3 separate regions of the Homo sapiens genome follow, and all the other regions are linked to region 1. Evidence: fine-mapped expression QTL. A gene starts in region 1. Each other region holds a variant in brackets. All regions are shown on one strand. Distances are from middle to middle.

Region 1 (5,219 bases):
AGGGTCTCCGCTTATACGTGAGAAAATTAGGGTTCAAAGAAGTAAAGGGCCCTCCTCTCCATTCTGTGGCAGTCATCACTAGTCAATCTCTCTTGCCCACCCAACATGGAGACCACCTCAGAATCCTCTGGGAGCCACTACCAATCAATTCAACTTGTCAGTTGAAAACCATCTGCCACCCCTTTCTGAAGTTACGTGGAGATTCTCCCAGGTGCCCATCCCATTTCCCCTCCCCCAGAACAGAAGGATACTAGAATGGAATGTCCTGCGTGACGAAAGCCTTCACCTGGGGAGGAACCAGAGCATCAGAGACCATGACCTCAGTCTACTCGAGGTACAGACGAGACACTGAAGCCCAGTGAGGTCATAAAGCAAGTCAGGTGCAGGCTAGACTCTCAGCCTAGGCTAGACTCTCAGCCTAGGGATCCTTCCCCCCTCCCCGCCCCAGTCATTGGGACCATGTTGCCCACTCCCCAAGAGGCTCAGGGGGAACAGAGCTAGGGACCTCTTCCTTCAAACTCACCTCCTTTAGGCGGTTCAGCTGTCATCCCCCGCAGGTCTGGAGGGGGATAAAATGGGATAGGTCAGGAGTCCTTCACGTTTATTCCAGTCACATCCCCAAAGCCATACTTCCTTATCCCTGAGTTGGGTCGGGCTGTGAGTTATCCCCGGATCAGCAGTTCCCAAGGTCTGAAGGAAATGCTGGACCCTTGTGGGCAGAAGGGGGAACTGTGTATACAGGTGGGGAGACTCAGGCCTAGAGACACCAGGGGAAAAGAGCAAGGCCAGAGACCCACAGTGTGCCTGCCAGCCTTGGGGCCTGTACATCCTACTGGCTGTGGACTGACTCCCAATGCCCAGGGGAAATGATCACCCTGCTCCTCTTAAGCAGTAGAGACCTGGGCTTGGCCTTTGATCCCTGAAATCTCACAGTGGAGGCAGAGCAGAAGGAAACACCTCAGAATGGCCCTGGGGGCCCCCATTGGAGACACCTACCATCTGGTCCCTACTCTACACAGGCAGACCTCACCCTGCCTGCCACCTGCGGCCCAGCCCCACAGACCATGTGGTTGCTTCCCTGACATGGGAGGATGGGAGGGCTCCTCCCTGCCTTCCCTGAGGAGATGCCACCATCCAGCAGGAGTCTAGACCCCAGGACCACCCACTCCAGCCCTCCTCCATCCTACCCTCAGCCCTTTTCTTAGAGACAGGGTCTCACTATGTCCCCCAAGCTGGTCTTGAACTCCTGGGCTCAAGCAATCCTCCTGCCTTGGCCTCCCAAAGTGCTGGGATTACAGGCGTGCACCACCGGCACCCAACCATTCTACACCCTTTTGTCAGACAGAGCTGACAAAAAGCTCAGAGGCGGGCTGTGATGGTCAAAGTCACATAGCAAGACAGGGACTCCGAACGGGAATTTCCTGGTTGGGGGAGGATGGGAGGCTGCTGCAGAGTAAATGTTGGCAACCAAGTTCCCAACTCGGTTGCCCCTCCGAGTTGGCCCCCTTCCCCGGATCCTGCATATGGGAGGAGGCACCCAGAAAGTCTTCTTTCCCCCCAGGAGAAGGAAAAGAGACTTTCTGGAGCCTCCAGCCCTGGAACCGGGTCGGGGGGGAATTCCAGGAAAACATGAAGTGATGGGGGATGGGAAGTTGGGACAGGATTGGGAGTCATAGGCCACGAGAAGAGTTAGGAGACTGCGTCAGTGTGTCTGGGTGTCCGCTGTCGGACCGGGTAGGGGGAGCTGGGGAAGGGTTCGGAGTTCCAGGCCCCAAAGTCGGTGTCTCAGGCTTCCACGGTGGATGCTGGGGCCATCTGGGGCTAGGGAACAGGAGGGATGGTCCCGGCGCCAGGGGGAAAGCAGGGAGACTCGCGGTTCGAGGTGGTCTTGGGGCCGGGACGGACGGTGCTCCCATGGGGCCGCAGGGTTGGGGAACGATAGTGCCGGGGCTGGAGGCCGGCGTACTCACCTCTACCCGGGCGCGGGTTAGGCCGCTCAGACGGTTCCAGTCCGGCCGGTAGGCAGTGGCGGCTGTGGCTGGGGCCACAAGCGCCGCGAGAAGCAGCAGCAGCGCCAGCGGAGGCAACAGGAGGCTCATCGGGACCCGGCCGCAGATGATGCGCAAGCTGGAGGCGAACCTCCGAGTCGCTGCGCCACGTCTGGGCCCCCAGGCTGGCCCCGCCCCCGCCCCCGCCCCCACTCCCGCTAGAGGCCCAGTCCCGCTGGAGACCACGCCCCCAGCGCTCGGTCTCCGCCCCAGGACTCCCCGCCGTTACCTCCCGCTAGCTCAGGGCGAGGTCCTGGCTCCTCCCTGGCGTTTGGGCCGTCACTTTCCCAGGTCCGAGAGTGTCGACGCTCCTTTTGTCGACCGAGGATGTGGACGCTCCCCCAGGATGCGGCCAGGCAGCGCCACCTCACGCCGGCAGAGGGTGCCGGCGAGACGCTGAGGGACACTGGAGTTTCTGAGCCGAACCTGCGACTTTAAGATAGGGAAACTGGTAGGACATCCAAGAAAAAAAAAGGAAAGAAAGAAAGAAGAATAAATAAGGGAAACTGGCTTTCTGAGGACTCCTCGCTTTGGAGCGTGGGAGATGAGGAGTGAGGTTCGGTGGAGGGGGTGCGGCTTCTGGGAGCCACTGAGACCTACCAGCGTGTCTTCTTACCATCCACAGCTACTGCTGAGCAGACTTTCTGACCTGGGGTGAGGAAAGGAATTTGCTATTCAAAGGTGGGAAAATGCAAGGAGGGTTACAGCTGATAGGCCACAACAGGGTCTTAAATCAGCTGGGTTAAATTTATGGAGTCAGGATTTACTTTTTTTTTTAATGTGGCTATCCAATTCAATTAAAAATCTTGTCTTTTTCATTGCTACTCTGCCGCGTTACCTCTGTTATATATAAATAGGCAACCACGGCCGGGCGTGGTGGCTCACACCTGTAATCCCAGCACTTTGGGAGGCCGAGGTGGGTAGATCACTTGAGGTCAGAAGTTCGAGGCCAGCCTGGCCAACATGGTGAAACCCCATCGCTACTAAAAATACAAAAATTAGCTGGGCGTGGTGTGGGCGCCTGTAATCCTAGCTACTTGGGAGGCTGAGGCAGGAGAATCACTTCAACCTGGGAGGCAGAGTTTGCAATGAGCCGACATCCTACCACTGCACTCCAGCCTGGGCGACAGAGACTGTCTCAAAAATAAATAAATAAATAAATAGGTAACCATATAAATATATGGGAGTCTACTTCTGAATATCATACCCTATTCTAGTCCTTCAGTGGGTTTGTCTAACTACGCTGTCTTATTAACTATAGCTTTATAGTCAGACTTGACATCTGGTTGTGTGTTGGTCCTCTAGCTTTGTTCTTTCTTTCTTTCTTTTTTTTTTTGAGACGGAGTCTCGCTCTGTTGCCCAGGCTGGAGTTCAGTGGCCTGATCTCGGCTCACTGCAACCTCCGCCTCCCGGGTTCAAGCAATTCTCCTGCCTCAGCCTCCCGAGTAGCTGGGACTACAGGCACGCGCCACCACGCCCAGCTAATTTTTTTGTATTTTTAGTAGAGATGGGGTTTCACTGTGTTAGCCAGGATGTTCTTGATCTCCTGATCTCATGATCCGCCCGTCTCAGCCTCCCAAAGTGCTGGGATAACAGGTGTGAGCCACTGCGCCTGGCCCATTTTTTTTTGTTTTTTTGTTTGTTTGTTTTTTTGAGACAGAGTCTTGCTCTGTCAGCCAGGCTGGAGTGCAGTGGCACGATCTCAGCTCACTGCAACCTCCACCTCCCAGGTTCAAGCGATTCTTCTGCCTCAGCCTCCCAAGTAGCTGGGATTACAGGTGCCCACCACCACGCCCAGCTAATTTTGTATTTTTAGTAAATATGGGGGTTTCATCATCTTGGCCAGGCTGGTCTCGAACTCCTAACCTCAAGTCATCCACCCGCCTTGGCCTCCCAAAGTCCTGGGATTACAGGTGTGAGCTGCTGGGCTGGCTATTTTTTTTTTTTTTTTGAGACAGAGTCTTGCTCTGTTGCCCAGGCTGGAGTGCAGTGGCTCAATCACAGCCTGAACCTCCCAGGCTCAAGCAATCCTCCCACCTCAGCCTCCTGAGTAGCTGGGACTACAGGCATGCACCATCATGCCCAGCTGATTTTTTTTTTTTTTTTTTGAGACGGAGTTTCACTCTCATTGTCCAGGCTGGACACTCTCATGTCCAGTGGCATGATCCGGACTCACTGCAACCTCTGCCTCCCAGGTTCAAGCGATTCTCTTGCCTCAGCCTCCTAAGTAGCTGGGATTACAGGCGTCGGCCACCACACCCGGCTAATTTTTTGTCTTTTTAGTAGAGACGAGGTTTCACCATGTTGACCAAGCTGGTCGCAAACTCCTGGGCTCAAGTGATCCTCCTGCCTTGGCCTCCCAAAGTACTGGGATTACAGGCATGAGCGACCATGCCTGGCCTGTGGCCTACATTTTCCTGTGGTGAGGGCCATGTGTGATCCCACAGCCTCAGTAAGCCATCGCAGTCTAGCTTTGTTCTTCTTGAAGGTTGTCTTGACTATACTTGGCCTTTCACACTTCCAGGTACAATTTAGGGCCAGCTCGTCAACCTCCACAGAAAAACCTTCCAAATTTCTATCAGGATTTCAGATTCCCACTGGGGAAATCAATGTGGGGAGACTCTACAGCTTTACATTATTGTGACTTTTCTTCCACGAACATAGTAAGTCCCTCCATTTCTATAGGTCTTCTTTAATTTCCTTCAATAATATTTTGTGGTTTTTAGAATAAATATCTTGCATATCTTTCATTAGATTTACTCCTAGGTATTTAATTTTTTATAGCATTACAAACTCTATTGTTTTTACATATTCATTTTCAAGTTGCTTGGTAGTAGCATATAGGAAGACAATTGATTTTTGTATATTAACCTTGCAGCCAGTGACCTTACTGAATTTTCTTACTCTAATAGTTTAACTGGATATTTTTTTTTATTTTCTACATATGCATATTATATCATCTGGAAATAAAAGTGGTTTTCTTCCTTTCTGGTCCTTATACCTTGGTTTTGTTTCGTTGCACTGTCTTAATTTTACGGTCTGGGGCCTCTGGTACAATGTTGACTGGAACTGATAATTGTCTTTTTCCAGATATCATCTTTAAACGATCATGTTTGCTGTAGGTTTGTTACTGGTGCCTTTTGTAAAAGAAAGTTTTCTATTTCTATTTTT
Region 2 (5,219 bases), 27 kb after region 1:
ACAGGGGATCAGACAAAGATCTGGTGTTGGCAACAACTCAGTCCTTCCCTGAGGGACAGAGGTGGGGTCAATATCCTGGCAGCCTGCCACCTCAGCAGCTCCACCCATTCAGGTGGCGCCCCTGGTGGGTCTGGGTTGACCTTGGGGAAAGGATACTCGTGGTTATAACTTTCCTTCATGGACTGATGACAAGGTAATAGTTAGTAACCGCTTAGTACTTAGACTCAGTTGGAGAAACTGAACCTTGGGATGGTTAGAGCCTGCCCTGGGGTAACATAGCGAGTTAGCAGTAGAGCCTGGAAGTGGACTGAGGTCTCCATCCTCCCACGCAGAGCTCTTCTTGCCTGCTCAGGAATATTCAGCTTACCCCAAATACCCAGTGCATCATAGGATTTTATTGGTCTTCCTTGCTAGCATAGAGACAAATCATTTATTGAGCACTTACTGGTATACTGGGAAATTTATGGGATGCTTTGCAAATGGTGTCTCACTGAATCTGCTGAACAACTCCAAGAGTAAAATAAGAGTCTCTGAGTTTGGCCGGGCACGGTGGCTCATGCCTATAATCCCAGCACTTTGGGAGGCTGAGGTGGGTGGATCATTTGAGGTCAGGAGTTCAAGAACAGCCTGGCCAACATGGTGAAACGCTGCCTCTACTAAAAATACAAAAATTAGCCAGGCGTGATGGCGGTACCTGTGGTCTCAGCTACTGGGGAGGCTGAGACAGGAGAATCACTTGAACCCGGGAGGTGGAGGTTGCAGTGAGCCGAGATTGCACCACTGCACTCCAGCCTGGGTGACAGAGCGAGACTCCATCTCAGAAAAAGAAAAAAAAAAAAAAGAGTCTCTGAGTTTACAGATGAGGGCCCTGGCATTCAGAGAGGCTGAGGAACTCACCCAGCCTGTCAACGGCAGAACCAGAGCCAAATCCAGGATTTGCTAGCTTCAAAGCTATGTTCTCACTCACTCCCTAAGGAGGCTGTGGGCAGAAGGAACCCTGGGCTGGGAGGCAGCACAGGGCTTGGTATTTATACTAGACCTGTTCTGCCTCAGTTTCCCAGTCTGTAAAGTGGCCCTTTGTCTCAGGCAATTTGTGCTAAGACCCAAGAGCCTTAAGTGTGTGGGATACTAGAGGGTCTCCCCTGATGTGGCCCCCTGCCCCTGCCTTGCCTGGACAGTTTGCCTTCAGGGACGACATGCCACTGGTGCGGCTGGAGGTGGCAGATGAGTGGGTGCGGCCCGAGCAGGCGGTGGTGAGGTACCGCATGGAAACAGTGTTCGCCCGCAGCTCCTGGGACTGGATCGGCTTATACCGGGTGAGAGGGGCAGTGGTGGTCAGCGACTCAGGGAAGAAAGGGGCCTGGAGGAGCAGCTGAACAGCATGGTGGGGTCACTGGCTTGTCCAGATCTTGATGCCACACTGGGAGACTGCTGGGATCAGACATTATAGGGTCACAACACTGATTCCACAACACTGATCCCCCAGGTGGGTTTCCGCCATTGCAAGGACTATGTGGCTTATGTCTGGGCCAAACATGAAGATGTGGATGGGAATACCTACCAGGTACTTAAAAGGAGTGGGAGAGTCAGGGCAAGTCCTTGTTGCCTTTGGGACCTCAGAACTCACCTTGGGGGCTCTCAGGTGGCCTCCCTGACCCCCAACTTAGGCTTATACCCCTGGGCCTACCAGGTAACATTCAGTGAGGAATCACTGCCCAAGGGCCATGGAGACTTCATCCTGGGCTACTATAGTCACAACCACAGCATCCTCATCGGCATCACTGAACCCTTCCAGGTAAGTAGGCCAGACTGCTGGGCTGGGGGTGCCTAAAGACTTTTGTCAAATGCCACAGCCTCTACATTCTGCTCCTTGAGTTCAGACAAATAACCTGACCTCCCAAGATCTGCCAACGAGAGAGGCAGACCTCGGGAGGTCAGGCCTCAGTGGCTGGGTTGGGGAGCAGGGCGCCCCAGTGACCAGCATTTCCCCCAGATCTCGCTGCCTTCCTCGGAGTTGGCCAGCAGCAGCACAGACAGCTCAGGCACCAGCTCAGAGGGAGAGGATGACAGCACACTGGAGCTCCTTGCACCCAAGTCCCGCAGCCCCAGTCCTGGCAAGTCCAAGCGACACCGCAGCCGCAGCCCGGGACTGGCCAGGTTCCCTGGGCTTGCCCTACGGCCCTCATCCCGTGAACGCCGTGGTGCCAGCCGTAGCCCCTCACCCCAGAGCCGCCGCCTGTCCCGAGTGGCTCCTGACAGGAGCAGTAATGGCAGCAGCCGGGGCAGTAGTGAAGAGGGGCCCTCTGGGTTGCCTGGCCCCTGGGCCTTCCCACCAGCTGTGCCTCGAAGCCTGGGCCTGTTGCCCGCCTTGCGCCTAGAGACTGTAGACCCTGGTGGTGGTGGCTCCTGGGGACCTGATCGGGAGGCCCTGGCGCCCAACAGCCTGTCTCCTAGTCCCCAGGGCCATCGGGGGCTGGAGGAAGGGGGCCTGGGGCCCTGAGGGTGGGGTAGGCAGATGGGCCAAGGTGACCACCATTCTGCCTCAATCTTTTGCAAGCCCACCTGCCTCTCTCCTGCTGCTCCTCCAGCTGTATCTGCACCTGCCTCTCTGTCCTGGCCAGGGGTGGACAACTGGGGTCCCCCAAAACTCAGTCCTGGCACCTCAACTGTGACAATCAGCAAAGCCCCACCCAGGCCCCCATCTGGGATGATGGGAGAGCTCTGGCAGATGTCCCAATCCTGGAGGTCATCCATTAGGAATTAAATTCTCCAGCCTCACTCTCGGCTCTTTCCTACTTGTTAGTAGTCTTGGGATGGTGGTAGTCAGAGGCAGGGACTGAAGAGGTGAGGGAATGACAGAACCGACATTTACCAGGCACCAGCTGTATACATTACACATGCCATCTCCTTTAATCTGCATCACAACCCTGTGAGATCAGTGCTATTCTTAGACCCATTTCACAGGTGAGCGAACTGAGGCCTTTAAAAGGTTACATCAACCTCTCAAGATCAGACACCAAACCATAGTTCAGCTAGGTGTCGCAGGGGGGA[A/G]TACTTATTAAGTGCTAAGCACTGTATATGTATTGGTTCACTTAATCCTCAACAACCCTATGAGGTAGCTCCTGTTTAGAGACCCCCTTTTTTTAGAGGAGGAAACTAAGGCTTAGAGTGCAAGAGGGAGGTCCTTTGCGCAAAGGCATGGAGGAGATTTGAATTTAGGTTTAGGGCTGGGCCAGGAAGGGCACGGCAGCCGTTAAAAAAAGAGGCCCCCCTGGGAGGAGGGGAGCTGAAAGCCCTCTCCAACACCCACCCCAATCCTGGATTCAGACACAGACATTTCTGTGACATCCCTAACTTCCCACCTGCTACCTCAGGCCACAGCACCCAGGCACTAGGGCTCCCCTAGGCAGGTTTTTGAGGCATGTATTATTTTTGCAACACGGACATACATGTACCTCCTCCTGGTACTGCCTGGGGCTGCTGCAATAAGTTACCCTTTCCCCATTCTCATCTGTATGTGAAGTTCCCTGGCAAGGCCAAAGCCCAGGGCATCAGAATGAGCTTCCTGAACACCACATCCAGGCATAGAAGAGTTGTGTCATACATAGCTCAAGGTTACCCAGAACAGCAGGAGATGTGGTCCAGCATTTGGGCCTTGAGATCCCCCCATTCATCCTCTTGATTGTCCACAACAGCCTCTGCCATGCTTCAGTCTAACCTACGGAGGGGAGGCTGAGATTCCCAAGGCTTGGCATAGCCATGGGCAAGGTCCAGGCTGGTGCCCAGGAAAGCTGAAACTGAGGTCACTGGCTCCAGGACTTCTGCTGCCTGTCGGGTCTCCTGGCTGCCTGGGTTAGCTGCAGGCACTGGTTGTAGAATGACATGGGGCCTCTCAGGGGCTCTGAAGGCCATGGCTGCCTCTCATCTGTGCCTTTATCCTGGAGCTGGTGTCGCCTCTGCTGAAGCCTCCGCAAGTGCCGGGCTGACACCCTGATGGCCCTAGGGTCTCTGGAACAGCTGTAAGGAGAGAAGAGTGGGGCAGATGATCAGGGCTGACAAGGATCCCACCTTACTCTGCAGACAGTGGGCTGAGGCCCAGAGAGAGAGGGGGCTGGGGCCACAGTCACCAGCAAGGCAGAGAGGGGTGGGTTTCACGGAGAAAGGGTATAATAAACCGGGCTGGTACCTGGAGGCCTGGGTTCTGCCACTAGCTGGCTGTGGAAACCTGAGCCAGAAGCCTCAGCCTCATCTATGAAATGGGAAAGTTAAGAAGGAGCTGGCTTTGAGAATCGGAATCCAGATGAAAGCAGAGCACAGTGGCTCACGCCTGTAATCCCAGCACTTTAGGAGGCCGAGGTGGGAGGATCGCTCGAGTCCAGAAGTTCAAGACCAAATGAGATTGTGGATTAGGAGTGAGTTAAGTACACATTTTGCTGTGTGCCAGGCGGGGCATGACCTATGTGCATCCTGCCGTTTCCTTGGTTCCTACGACCATTTTACAGACAAAGACATGGAAACTTGGAAAGGTGAACCAGTTGCCAAGGTCATGTGGGAATCAAATGACAAAGCCAAGATGCGACCCATAGAGGCCAACTGCAGAGCTGGACCTGGGGCAGCAGGGGGTAGAGGGATGAGGCTATGGATAGGAGCTCAGAGGTCTCCGGATCCCTTCCCCTACCCCTTGGCCCAAGCATTCAAAGTGGGTATAGGCAACCCACCCTTTGAGAAAACCCCCCATCCCTCCTGGCTCTGACATCACTTACTTTTTGCCTTCCACACAGTCCAGTGGAGGGGCCAGCTTGAAGCAGGTTGTGCCCAGCAGCTCCCAAAGCATGTTGGTAACCTCGGGTGGGCTGTGGAGCCTCAGGAAGCGTGCCAGACTGAGAACAGAGGCAGGCTCAGGCCGGGGCAGGGCCTTGCCAGCCAGGGGCCCCTTCCCATGCCTGGCAGCAGGCAGCCCACCCCGCGAGGGTTCAAAGGGGCCTCACCGGCGCGTGCAGTTGCAGTGGAAGAGGGGCTCTTGGGCGCTGTTGAGCAGCTGGAACTCGATTTCCCGGGGCCCAATCTGGTGCTCACACTGGTCCAGGTGGCGGCGGAAGCTGCGGCAGACCCAGCGGGCACCTGAGGGGTGGATGTGGTGTTGATGGGAGCCCAATCCACCAGGGAGGCCCCACCAATGCCTGCGCCATCCGGGAGAAACACCAGCACGTGTGCTCAGT
Region 3 (5,219 bases), 61 kb before region 1:
CCACCTACAGACTTTGGGCAAGTGCCTTCACCTCTCTGAGCCTCAGTGGTCACCAAACCTAGTGAATAGCAACGACATCTGGCAAGTGTGTGAAAATGGCAGATGGCCAGGCCCCGACTCCAACTTACGGTGAATCAGACTCTTCTAGGATGGGGTTTGGATACTCTGATGTAGCTAGAGAACTGGAGTTCAGGAATCAGTGACATTCAGGCACTTCAAACAGGCTTTGCAAATCATTATTATTTTATAATTATTATTATTTTTGAGACGGAGTCTTGCTCTGTCCCCCAGGCTGGAGTGAGGGGCACAATCTCGGCTCACTGCAACCTCCACCTCCCAGGTTCAAGTGATTCTCCTACCTCAGCCTCCCAAGTAGCTGGGACTACAGGGACACACCACCACGCCCAGCCAATTTTTGTATTTTTAGTAGAGACAGGGTTTCACTGTGTTGCCCAGGCTGGTCTTGAACTCCTGAACTCAGGTGATCCACCTGCCTCGACCTCCCAAAGTACTAAGATTACAGGTGTAAGCCACCGTGCGTGGCAGCCGGTTTTTTTTTTTGAAACAGGGTCTCGCTTTGTCACCCAGGCTGGAGTGCAGTGGCTCAATCACACCTCTTTACAGCCTCAACCTCCCAGGCTCAAGTGGTCATCCTGCCTCAGTCTCCCCAGTAGTTAGGACTACAGGCACGCACCACCATGCCTGGCTAATTTTTTTTTTTTTTAATTAGCGACTCCATCTCACTATGTTCTCCAGGCTGATCTTGAACTCCTGAGCTCAAGCGATCCTCCCGCCTCAGCCTCCCAAAATGTTAGGATTACAGGCATGAGTCACCACACCCAGCACCAAAATCATTATTTTGATTAGACTCTGTTCCCTATAGATGGAAATCCAGGCTTCATAGCCTGGCATTCGGGACGTCACAGCAACCTCTTAAACAGAGCCATAAACTTCATACACTACCTGACCATCCCTCATCCCTCAGTTCCTTCAACAAGCACATGGAGAGTGCCCTCTCTGCAGCCCCAGATAAAATCGGGTCTCTGCCCTCCCTGGGGGTTCTAAGTGGGAATAAATTAAATTCCACACCCCAAGGTTCTCTTGTTTTTCCAAACACTTTCTTGCTCACACCTCTGAACCCTACTTTAATGGGGGGAAACCCACCAACAATCTCCTCCCACCTAAAGCTTTCCTGGTTCTCTGCACCCCCGGCTGAATCCCCATTTACCATGGGGTCTACCCTTCTCATGAATGAATGAGTGAGTGAGTGAATGAACGAATCCCAACTAATTTGCCTCTGATCCCTAGCACTGTTTGTGGCCAATAATGTTTGTTGAAATACAATGGAATATGGATTTTCTAAGCCAGTTTTCATCTGAATGCAACAACCACTGAGAAACATTGCCAGTCAACCAACATTTATTGAGTAGCTACTACGTGCCTGGCACGTGGAAACAAAGCAGATCATTCCAGATATAGTAAGAGTTACAAGTGCTATGGGAGGGAGAGAGACTGAGAGGTGCTATTTCATATGGAATGGTCAGGGAAGCCCCTTGGAGGAGGTGGCATTTGAGCTGGAGACTTGAAGACTGAGACAGGCAGCCTGCAGAGCCCTAGAATGGTGACTTGATGTGGGTTTGAGCAGAGCTTTCTGACTTCTGGGTGGTGAATGGAGGTGGGGTGGGGGCAGTGGCCGGAGCCAAGTGACATGATGAACAGTGGTGTGGAGAAGTGGGGCCCAGCCACATGAAGAAAGACACCACAGGGGGGCTCTGCTGCTAGGGTGGGATCACTGGCCTTCTTCCAAGCTTTAGGCTATTTGATTCTCTGAGCTTTATCTGTGTTTTAAACACACACACAGAAGCAAGTAAAGAAAACAACCCCCCCTCCCCCGGCCCCAGAGCCTCAGAAGTTGGCTAAAGCCCACAGGGTTGTTTGTTTGTTTTGTAAAAAATATGTTTTCCACTGAATCTTCAGTTTTTTGTTTCAGCAGCTGGCATCCACCCAAGGGAACAAGTTAGCTGGGACAAACAGGGCTTCCGTCCCTCTGTCATTGTCCTCTGGATCACAGCTCGTGGCTGCTAAGAGGGTCATTTCCTGTGGCCGAGAGGCAGGGCTGAGAAGGTGAAGTGTGGGGGCCAGGCCTTCCCACGGATGCAGCTGGGTCAGCTGCATTTCCCCAGAGGACACTGCTCCAGGGGAGGGGGTGGGGCAGGAGAAAGGCAGCCCCTGAGGTCAGGCTTGCAGCTCTGGCCCAGCAGTTCAATATTAAATCAGTTACTTGAGGTTTCACAACACCAAGGAGCAAGGCTCCCAGGCTAGTCCTCAAGAAGAGCCTATTGCACTGATGTTGGAAAGTCATTTGTTTTGTTTGTTTGTTTGTTTGTTTGTTTTGAGACAGAGTCTCCCTCTGTCGCCCAAGCTGGAGTACAGTTGCACGATCTCGGCTCGCTGTGTGATCACTTGAACCCCCTCTGCCTCCCGTTTCATGCGATTCTCATAGCCTTAGCCTCCCAAGTAGCTGGAATTACAGGTTTGCACTACCATGCCCAGCTAAATTTTTGTACTTTTAGTAGAGACAGGGTTTCGCCATGTTGGCCAGGC[C/T]GATCCTGAACTCCCAGTTTAGGTGATCTCCCCGTCTCGGCCTCCCAAAGTGCTGGGATTACAGGTGTGAGCCACAGCACCTGACCTGGAAAGTCATTTGTGTAGGATGAGAGGTACCCAGCCCATACACAAGATGGTCGGGGCACATGATTTGAAAACCCATCAAATTCAGGCCACATGACCTGAGAATGAGGTGAGACTGAGCTGTGTCTGGAAGACAGAAAAGCCCTTCTGCCACTATAGACCAGAGCAGGGGGCTCCAGGCATGGGAACCACTGAATTCCATGTCTCTGCAAGCCACATGTATGCCCAAATTCTGTTGAATTTCTAGGCTCAGCCCCTCCTGGTTATAATCTGGTTTCTCAAACTGGCTCTCTGTCCCCAGAAAGAGGAAGAAGGGTGCCAGGGCAGTGTCCAGCCCATATCCATCTAACTCCTCACACACTGATATGGTTTGGCTGTGTCCCCGCCCAAATCTCAACTTGAATTGTATCTCCCAGAATTCCCATGTGTTGTGGGAGGGACCCAGGGGGAGGTAATTGAATCATGGGGGCCGGTCTTTCCCATGCTATTCTCGTGATAGTGAATAAGTCTCATGAGATCTGATGGGTTTATCAGGGGTTTCTGCTTTTGCTTCTTCCTCATCCCTCTTGCCGCCACCATGTATGAAGTGCCTTTTGCCTTCCGCCATGATTGTGAGGCCTCCCCAGCCATGTGGAACTGTAAGTCCAATTAAACCTCTTTTTATTCCCAGTCTTGGTATGTCTTTATCAGCAGCGTGAAAACAGACTAATACACACACCTATGAGTTTTACATCAAGATCATGTGCCTTCCTCTCAGGCCATTCAGCTTTGTTCATAACCTCCAGTCACCATGGCCCACTTCAGACTCCTCCTTCCTGCTTCAGGGCCTTTGCCCATGACTTCCTCTGCTGGATCTCAAGTCAAAGTGCTCAAGACACCCTAAACTTTTCCTCTCAGAGCTAACTCCCAACTGACAATAGTGATTTGTGTAGTCATTCACATGATGTTTTCTTCCTCCAAAGCACCATTGAAGACATTCCAAAAAGCGAGACAGGCACAGTGGCTCACACTTATAATCACAGCTATTTGGAAGGCCAAGGCAGGAGGATTGCTGGAGCACAGGAGTTCGAGACCAGCCTAAGAAACATAGTGGGACCTTGTCTCTACAAAAAAAATAAAGAATAAAAAAATTAGCCAGGTGTGGTGGTGTATACCTGTTGTCCTAGCTACTCAAGAGGCTGAGGCTGGAGGATTGCTTGAACCTGGGATGATCACTTGAGCCCAGGAGGTGAAGGCTGCAGTGAGCCATGATCACGCCACTGCACTCCAGCCTGGGTAACAGAGTGGGACCCTGTCTCCAAAAAAGTTAAAAAGAGAGAAAAAGCGAAAGGAAGTGAGTGGTTGGTATTTATGGACCAAGTCTGAAAACAGCACATGTCCCTTCTGCTCACATTTCATTGGCTGGAATCAGTCACATGGCTCCCCTAACAGCAAGGGAGGCTGGGAAATGTGGTCTAGTACAGTGTTGAAGAGGACGATGTGGACCACAGTGGGGTAAGGTGATTCCTCAAAATGAGAAGAAAGGGGTGATGGGGGCCTGAACAGGCAAAAGGCCCACTATGCACTCCACACGGCCTCCATAACCCCACCCAGGGAGGGGAAGGCATGTCTCCTGGGCCTCCTTCTGCCTTTTCCTGTGGATGGAAAACTCATTAGTGGTCAGCCTCTGGAGCAGATACCGCCCAGAGGCCCCTGATGATACCTCTACCCATCAAAGGCTTCTTACTGTGAATGTAACTGCTTGACTGTGTTGTTCTGACCTCAGGAGCACACTTGGGCCTGTCCTCTGGCAAGCGGGAAGGCTGAGTTCCAGAAGCATCCCTCAACCAGTGAAGAATGAGAAGTTGGTGGCTAGATACTCCAGCTGCCTCTTGCTCCTTGGTTGGGATGACTGTCTCTGAGCTTTCCCTAGTGGGGTTGAACTCCAGTTGCCTATCGAAGTGTGCTTTCAATTCATTTATTGAATTTATTGGCTGCTTTCCTTTCCCCATCTCACCTCCCCACTCCCCTGCAGGGGATTCCCTGGGATCACCTCCCAGACAGATTACTTGAACTTAAATACTTCTCTTAAGACCTGCTTCTGGGAGGACCCAAACAAAGGCAGCTCCACAAGGGCAGGGACAAGGGACGGTGATGTGGACTCTTCTCCCCTACCTCCTGTCTTGTGCTTCATGCACATGCAATCGTTCTTTTTTTTTTTTTTTTTTTTTTGAGACAGGGTCTCGCTCTGTTGTCCAGGCTGGAGTGCAGTGGTGTGATCTCGGCTCACTGAAGCCTCAACTTCCTGGGCTAAAGCAATCCTCCCATCTCGGCCTTTCAAGTACCTGGGACTACAGGCGTGTGCCACCATACCTGGCTAATTTTTTGTAGAGATGGGGTCTCACTGTGTTGCCCACACTGGTCTCAAACTCCTGGGCTCAAGCGATCAGCCCACCTTGGCCTTCCAAAATACTGAGGTCACAGGTGAGAGCCACTGTGCCTTGCCAATCATTCTTTTTATTACTGTTTATAAACACACAAAATACATGTCG

Evidence for each region. PIP is the estimated chance that this variant, and not a neighbour inherited with it, causes the effect. A credible set is the group of variants that fine-mapping cannot tell apart.
Region 2: its variant is the best candidate, but not a certain one, in a credible set for the expression of SELENOM in nucleus accumbens (GTEx, PIP 0.82).
Region 3: its variant is the best candidate, but not a certain one, in a credible set for the expression of SELENOM in whole blood (INTERVAL, PIP 0.87).

The regions. Positions count from the first base shown.
Region 1 is chr22:31,105,407-31,110,625 of GRCh38, forward strand. It overlaps SELENOM (selenoprotein M), which reads right to left and starts at 2,162. Exons shown (of 5, transcript NM_080430.4): 1 at 1,971-2,162; 2 at 524-559; 3 at 252-286. The coding sequence starts at 2,099. LOC105372995 (a long non-coding RNA gene) reads right to left here. Exons shown (of 3, transcript XR_938163.3): 2 at 2,665-2,697; 3 at 2,230-2,480. It overlaps LOC124905100 (a long non-coding RNA gene), which reads left to right and starts at 2,476. Exons shown (of 2, transcript XR_007068063.1): 1 at 2,476-2,702; 2 at 4,573-5,046. RefSeq lists an enhancer at 846-1,618.
Region 2 is chr22:31,131,920-31,137,138 of GRCh38, forward strand. INPP5J (inositol polyphosphate-5-phosphatase J) reads left to right here. Exons shown (of 13, transcript NM_001284285.2): 10 at 1,179-1,316; 11 at 1,487-1,564; 12 at 1,691-1,795; 13 at 1,994-2,778. The coding sequence ends at 2,500. It overlaps PLA2G3 (phospholipase A2 group III), which reads right to left. Exons shown (of 7, transcript NM_015715.5): 5 at 4,989-5,121; 6 at 4,764-4,880; 7 at 2,888-4,017. The coding sequence ends at 3,804. Among named protein-coding and RNA genes, the nearest start is that of PLA2G3, 6.0 kb to the right of the region's middle. The variant A/G (reference allele first, on the strand shown) is at 3,052.
Region 3 is chr22:31,044,661-31,049,879 of GRCh38, forward strand. No RefSeq gene overlaps it. Among named protein-coding and RNA genes, the nearest start is that of SMTN, 34 kb to the right of the region's middle. RefSeq lists an enhancer at 1-426. The variant C/T (reference allele first, on the strand shown) is at 2,605.